Linked DNA regions of Homo sapiens: region 2 is linked to region 1. Evidence: fine-mapped expression QTL. A gene starts in region 1. The other region holds a variant in brackets. All regions are shown on one strand. Distances are between the middles of the regions.

Region 1 (2,911 bases):
GATTCTAGAAAAAAGGAGAGAGCAGTCTTGTGAAAGAGGTGAAACAAAGGCTTTTCATGTACTCCGGAATTGCTTGGAGACTGGGATATAACCCTGGCAAAGTTATTAAAGTTGATTTCTCTAAAGCATTTACTCGAAAGGGCCACCTAAGGATAACTGGCTAACTGCCCTTAAATTACATTTATTTTTAAAAACATAGTTTGAAAAAGGTTAGTAACCAAAGACTTACAAGACCAACCTTTTTTAAAAAAGAATTTTAAAGGCTGGTTCATAATATGCAAAGGAAGACTACACATTTGCTTGCTACATTTAAGTTGCACAGTATAATATATAGCTTTTCTCCCTCCTCTGGGTTATTTTGAAAATATTAATAAGTTGGATGTCTATTCCATATTTTCAAAGTGGTTATCAATGACTTTTACTTAAATACTTGTAAAACTTATTAATGCCACTTTAATCTCAGTTTACTGCTTAAAGCTTTAGATATCCATATTTTTTTAAAAAAACTATTCTTAAAAAATAGGTAACTAAATTTAATAAATAATGAAAACAATGACAAAATATTCAATGAGGAAAAATGTTTATCCCCATATTGTGGCCAGAACGTTAAGAAACTTTTACAGGACGAAGTCTGCCTGGAAGGGTTTGCTTGGGAAAGTGGTAGTTTATAGCATAACATCTGATTTTGTGTGTTTGTGCCAAGGGTGTTTCCTTTCTGTCTTTTTCCTTTTTATAGGCAGCCACAATAGTGACATGTTTAATATTGATGAGTTTGACCTCCTGGGAGTTATCGTATATGCACCCTTTTTGAATACAAATGCTGTTTAATTTATATGGTAAACACATAGAATTTGGAGACTAGCATTTTAATCAACACTAATCTCAGTATTTTCTACTTCTCCTACCTCTCCTTCTGTCAACAACAACAAAAAAATCACAAACCAATTTTATAAATGACAGCTAATGTCCTCTCCTGGAGAAGCAGGGTCTGTGTGTGAAACATAAAAGCAGCACCATGTGTAGTAACCTCTCCTAAACCATATGCTCAAGCACATTAACAGTGTTCAATTAGATGATCAATTATTCAAGAAACAGAACAATCCATTCATTCAACAAATATTTATTGAACAGCCATGCAGAGGCAGACAGGGGGTTGTGTATGTGGCTGTGACCCGATGGCACCTCTAAACTGGAATTGGGCTTCAGTTTTTCTCCGTGTAAAAATTTCTTCTTTTTTATTTAACTTTTCTCTTGGCAGGTCCAGCAGCTTTGAAGATCAGAGTGCATCTTCCAGCTGACGATCTCTTCGGTCGGGGACAATGCATTCGATTCGCACGGTGGAGATTAAAGTCCCCGAGATAGAGGAAACGTTTTTCGCGCCCAGGTTCAGCGAGGAGCCGCGCGGGGGCAGAGGGGGCGGCGGCGGCGGGCGGGGAGCCAGGCCCGAGCTGCGTTCTGCGCAGCCATTGGTGGGCGCCGCGCTCTGCACTGAGCATGTTCGCGCCCCGCCGGCCCCTAGCCGCAGCCGCAGCCGCAGCGACGGCAGCCACGGGAGCCGCCGCGCATTATGCAAAGCGGCGGCAGATGCGAGCGGGGCCAGCCGGGCGCGCGTCGGCCTCCCCTCCCAGCGGCTCCCCCCGCCGCCGCCTGACTCTCCCGGGAGACTCCCTAGGCCCGGACCTGGGGCCGAGGAGGGCCGGGATGGCCTGAGTGCCCGCGGCGCGGCGGCGCAGCAGCGGGATTGCACCATGGGGAACCAGGATGGGAAGCTGAAGAGGAGCGCAGGTGATGCTTTGCACGAAGGCGGCGGTGGCGCCGAGGATGCGCTGGGGCCCAGGGATGTGGAAGCCACAAAGAAGGGGAGCGGGGGCAAGAAGGCGCTAGGCAAGCACGGCAAGGGGGGAGGGGGCGGCGGCGGCGGCGGGGAGTCGGGCAAGAAGAAGAGCAAGTCCGACTCCAGAGCCTCGGTGTTTTCCAACCTGCGGATCAGGAAGAATCTGTCCAAGGGGAAAGGCGCCGGCGGCTCCCGCGAAGATGTACTGGATTCCCAGGCCCTGCAGACCGGGGAGCTGGACAGCGCTCACTCCCTGCTCACCAAGACTCCAGACCTCAGCCTCTCGGCGGACGAGGCCGGCCTGTCGGATACCGAGTGTGCGGACCCTTTTGAGGTGACCGGTCCAGGGGGTCCTGGGCCTGCCGAGGCTAGGGTCGGGGGCCGGCCGATCGCCGAGGATGTGGAAACTGCAGCAGGGGCGCAGGATGGACAAAGGACCAGCTCGGGCTCGGACACGGACATCTATAGCTTCCATTCGGCTACGGAGCAAGAGGATTTGCTTTCAGACATCCAGCAGGCGATCCGCCTGCAGCAGCAGCAGCAGCAGCAGCTCCAGCTCCAGCTCCAGCAACAGCAGCAGCAGCAGCAGCTCCAGGGCGCCGAGGAGCCTGCAGCGCCCCCCACTGCCGTCTCCCCTCAGCCCGGGGCCTTCCTGGGCCTGGACCGGTTCCTGCTGGGGCCGAGCGGCGGGGCTGGGGAGGCCCCGGGCAGTCCGGACACCGAGCAGGCGCTGTCCGCGCTCTCCGACCTGCCCGAGAGCCTGGCCGCCGAGCCCCGGGAGCCCCAGCAACCGCCGTCCCCCGGCGGCCTCCCGGTCTCCGAGGCGCCCAGTCTCCCGGCAGCGCAACCCGCGGCCAAAGACTCGCCCTCCTCCACGGCTTTCCCATTTCCCGAGGCCGGGCCGGGGGAGGAAGCGGCCGGAGCCCCCGTGCGAGGGGCTGGGGACACGGATGAGGAGGGTGAGGAGGATGCTTTTGAGGATGCGCCCCGGGGCTCTCCGGGGGAGGAGTGGGCCCCGGAGGTGGGAGAGGACGCCCCGCAGAGGCTGGGGGAAGAGCCGGAGGAGGAGGCGCAAGG
Region 2 (2,911 bases), 30 kb before region 1:
CAATTCATTTAAGGCATACCCACTATGCGCCAGGCACTGCGTGGGGTCCTAGAGATATAATAGTAAATAAGACACTGCCCTATCCTCAGAGGTATGAAATCTAGAGGAGAGAGACAGGCAAGCAAATAGGCAAACACTTTGAAATATGTGTAAAGGCCACCATAATACTTCCTTTTTGCCCTCTGAAGGTTCACTGAAAATCAGCTGACAAAAGTCGAATTAATAGGAGAGGCCAGGCGTGGTGGCTCATGCCTGTAATACCAGCCTGGACAACATGGCAAGACCCCATCTCTACAAAAAAAAAGTTACAAAATTTAGCTGGGCAGGCTGGGTGTGGCGGCTCACGCCTGTAATTCCAGCACTTTGGAGGCCAAGGCAGGTGGATCACGAGGTCAGGAGTTGGAGACCAGCCTGACCAACATGGCGAAACCCTGTCTTTACAAAATATACAAAAAGTAGCTGGGCATGGTGGCACGTGCCTGTAATCCCAGCTACTCAGGAGGCTAAGGCAGGAGAATTGCTTGAACCTGGGAAGCAGAGGTTGCAGTGTGCTGAGATCGTGCCACTGCACTCCAGCCTGGGTGACAGAGTGAGACTCAGTCTCAAAAAAAAAAAAAAAAATTTAGCTGGACATGGTGGTGCATGCCTGTGGTCCCAGCTACTCAAGTGGCTGAGGTGGGAGGATCACCCAGGCCCTGGAGGCCAAGGCTACAGTGAACTGTGATTGTGCCATTGCACTCCAGCCTGGGCAATAGAGTGAGACCCTGTCTCAAAAAAAAAAAAAAAAAAAAAAAAACAGAGAGAGAGAAATGGTATACAAATTTATTAGCATGCCACAAGAGGGAAATCCCCATTATGCAGTGGCGATAGATGCTTATTTACCCTTCTTCTTAGGTGAAAGGGAGATGGGGAAGTATGGATGATTTTAATGGGGTAGTAAGTGATTTTTTCGGAGAATTTAATGGGCTTGAATCACATACAATGGTCTGGAACATTGTCTGTGGGGCCCGCAGAGCAGACAATGGTTCGTGACGAAAATGTGTCCAGATGTGTTGACAGACTTCAGTCATTCTTCCAGCAATGAGTTCAGTGACGAAAACTCAGGGAAGGGACGAGAGGTCCAGACTTTAGGTGGATAAGGAGAACAACCTCATCCTTTGGGAGAGACAGAGGACTGAGAGACAGACCTGGGGCCAGAGGGGAACAGGGAAGATCAGATAGACTTTGAGACTTCTTCTTCAGTTCAACATGTCAAAGTGCTATATTTTGGGGTATTGGTTGGGTATTGGTTTCTGAGCCACAACATGTGATAAATGTGATCA[T/C]TGAAGCCAAGGTTAGGGGCTCTGAGAGCATATTCGAGAAATTTGAAGGGTCCCGGATGAGCTCTTGGATGAAGTGACTTCTAACCTGCAATCTGAAGTTGGGTAGAACTTAGCACGGAATGCAAGGGTGGCGGAGGGGAGCAGAAAAGTTTTCCAGACAGCTTTAATGGCAACCCCAGAGACGAGAAGAAGTAGACAGCACATTAAAAACAAACAAACAAACAAAAAAACAGTAAATAAATCCGTCAGTATATTTGGAGTTTCTAATGGCGGTGTGGATTGGAGGTGGGGAAAGAGGAACTGTGCTATGCTGAAATGAACGTCTAAAGGTGAGCAGAGCCTTAGAGACAAAAGTTTTCATGAGAGACAGAATAAACAAACAGACAATGGCCAGACCCTGGATGACAACTGACCCACAACCTCTGAAGCAACCAGTCCAGGATGTCAACCAAACCACAACCTCTGTAGCATTGACTCAGAACATTCAGGGCTGTTGAATGGTCAATGACTGCCAGCTTCCCTCCCTATTCCCTCTCTCCTTGACCCCATCCAACTCAGGACCAACCAGAGAAAGCTAAACACAAGAGGACTTCAGAAAGTTCATGGAAAATTGAAATAAAAGATTTAAAAAATATATAAATTGTATTTCTCAATGTATGTTTCATCAAGTTTAAGACACATTTGTAAGTGATGATACCAACCATTTAGTCCATCCCTAAAGAACTAAGGGTCCTAGAAGTTTAACCGTATCAATGCAATCTTTGTTACATTATTAACTGAAGAAGAATGAATGCCCTTTAAATATGTTTTTAAAATTAGCAAACATAAAGAAGTCAGAGGGAGCCAAATCAGGACTGGAAGGTGGATGTCTAAAGATTTCCCATTGAAACTGTGGCAAAATTGCCCTTGTTTGATGAGAAGAAGTGAGCATTGGCATCGTCATGGTGGAGAAGGACTCTCTGGTGAAGCTTTCTTGGGAATTTTTCTGCTAAAGCTTTGGCTAACTTTCTCAAAACATGCTTATAATAAGCAGATGTTATCATTCTTTGGACCTCCATGAAGTCAATAAGCAAAATGCCTGGAGCATCCCAAAAAACTGTTGCCATGACCTTTGTGCTTGACTGGTTTTGCTTTTTTATTTATTTTATTTTTTAAGAAATTATATAACAGAGACAGGGTCTCATTACGTTGCCCAGGCTGGTCTTTAGCTCCTGGGCTCAAGCAATCTTCCCACCTTGGCCTTCCTAGTAGCTGGGACTATAGGCGTGAGCCACCACTCCCAGCCCCTGCTTTTGCTTTGACTGGGTCACTACCACTGCTGGATATCCATTGCTTTGATGGTGCCTTGTCTTCAGGATCATATCGGTAAAGCCGTGTTTCATCTCCTGTTACAATTCTTTGAGGAGATGCTTTAGGATCTTGATTTCACTTGTTTAACGTTTCAGTTGAAAGCTCTGTTCTTGTCTGCAGCTGATCTGGGCACAAAGGCTTCGGCAACGTTGAGTGAAAAGTTTGCTCAAATTTAATTTTCCGTCAGAATTGTGAAGCTGAACCAATTGAGATGTCCATGGTCTTGGCTATTTTTTTCT

Direction of the effects. Positions count from the first base shown, and alleles are read on the strand shown. Sizes are in standard deviations (SD) of each study's normalised expression.
For the expression in tibial nerve of the gene that starts at base 1,522 in region 1, allele C in region 2 goes with a lower level than allele T (small effect, 0.33 SD a copy in GTEx).

The links. PIP is the estimated chance that this variant, and not a neighbour inherited with it, causes the effect. A credible set is the group of variants that fine-mapping cannot tell apart.
Region 2: its variant is the best candidate, but not a certain one, in a credible set for the expression of FMN2 in tibial nerve (GTEx, PIP 0.79).

Annotation. Positions count from the first base shown.
Region 1 is chr1:240,090,362-240,093,272 of GRCh38, forward strand. It overlaps FMN2 (formin 2), which reads left to right and starts at 1,522. Exons shown (of 18, transcript NM_020066.5): 1 at 1,522-2,911. The coding sequence starts at 1,749.
Region 2 is chr1:240,060,098-240,063,008 of GRCh38, forward strand. No RefSeq gene overlaps it. Among named protein-coding and RNA genes, the nearest start is that of FMN2, 30 kb to the right of the region's middle. The variant T/C (reference allele first, on the strand shown) is at 1,323.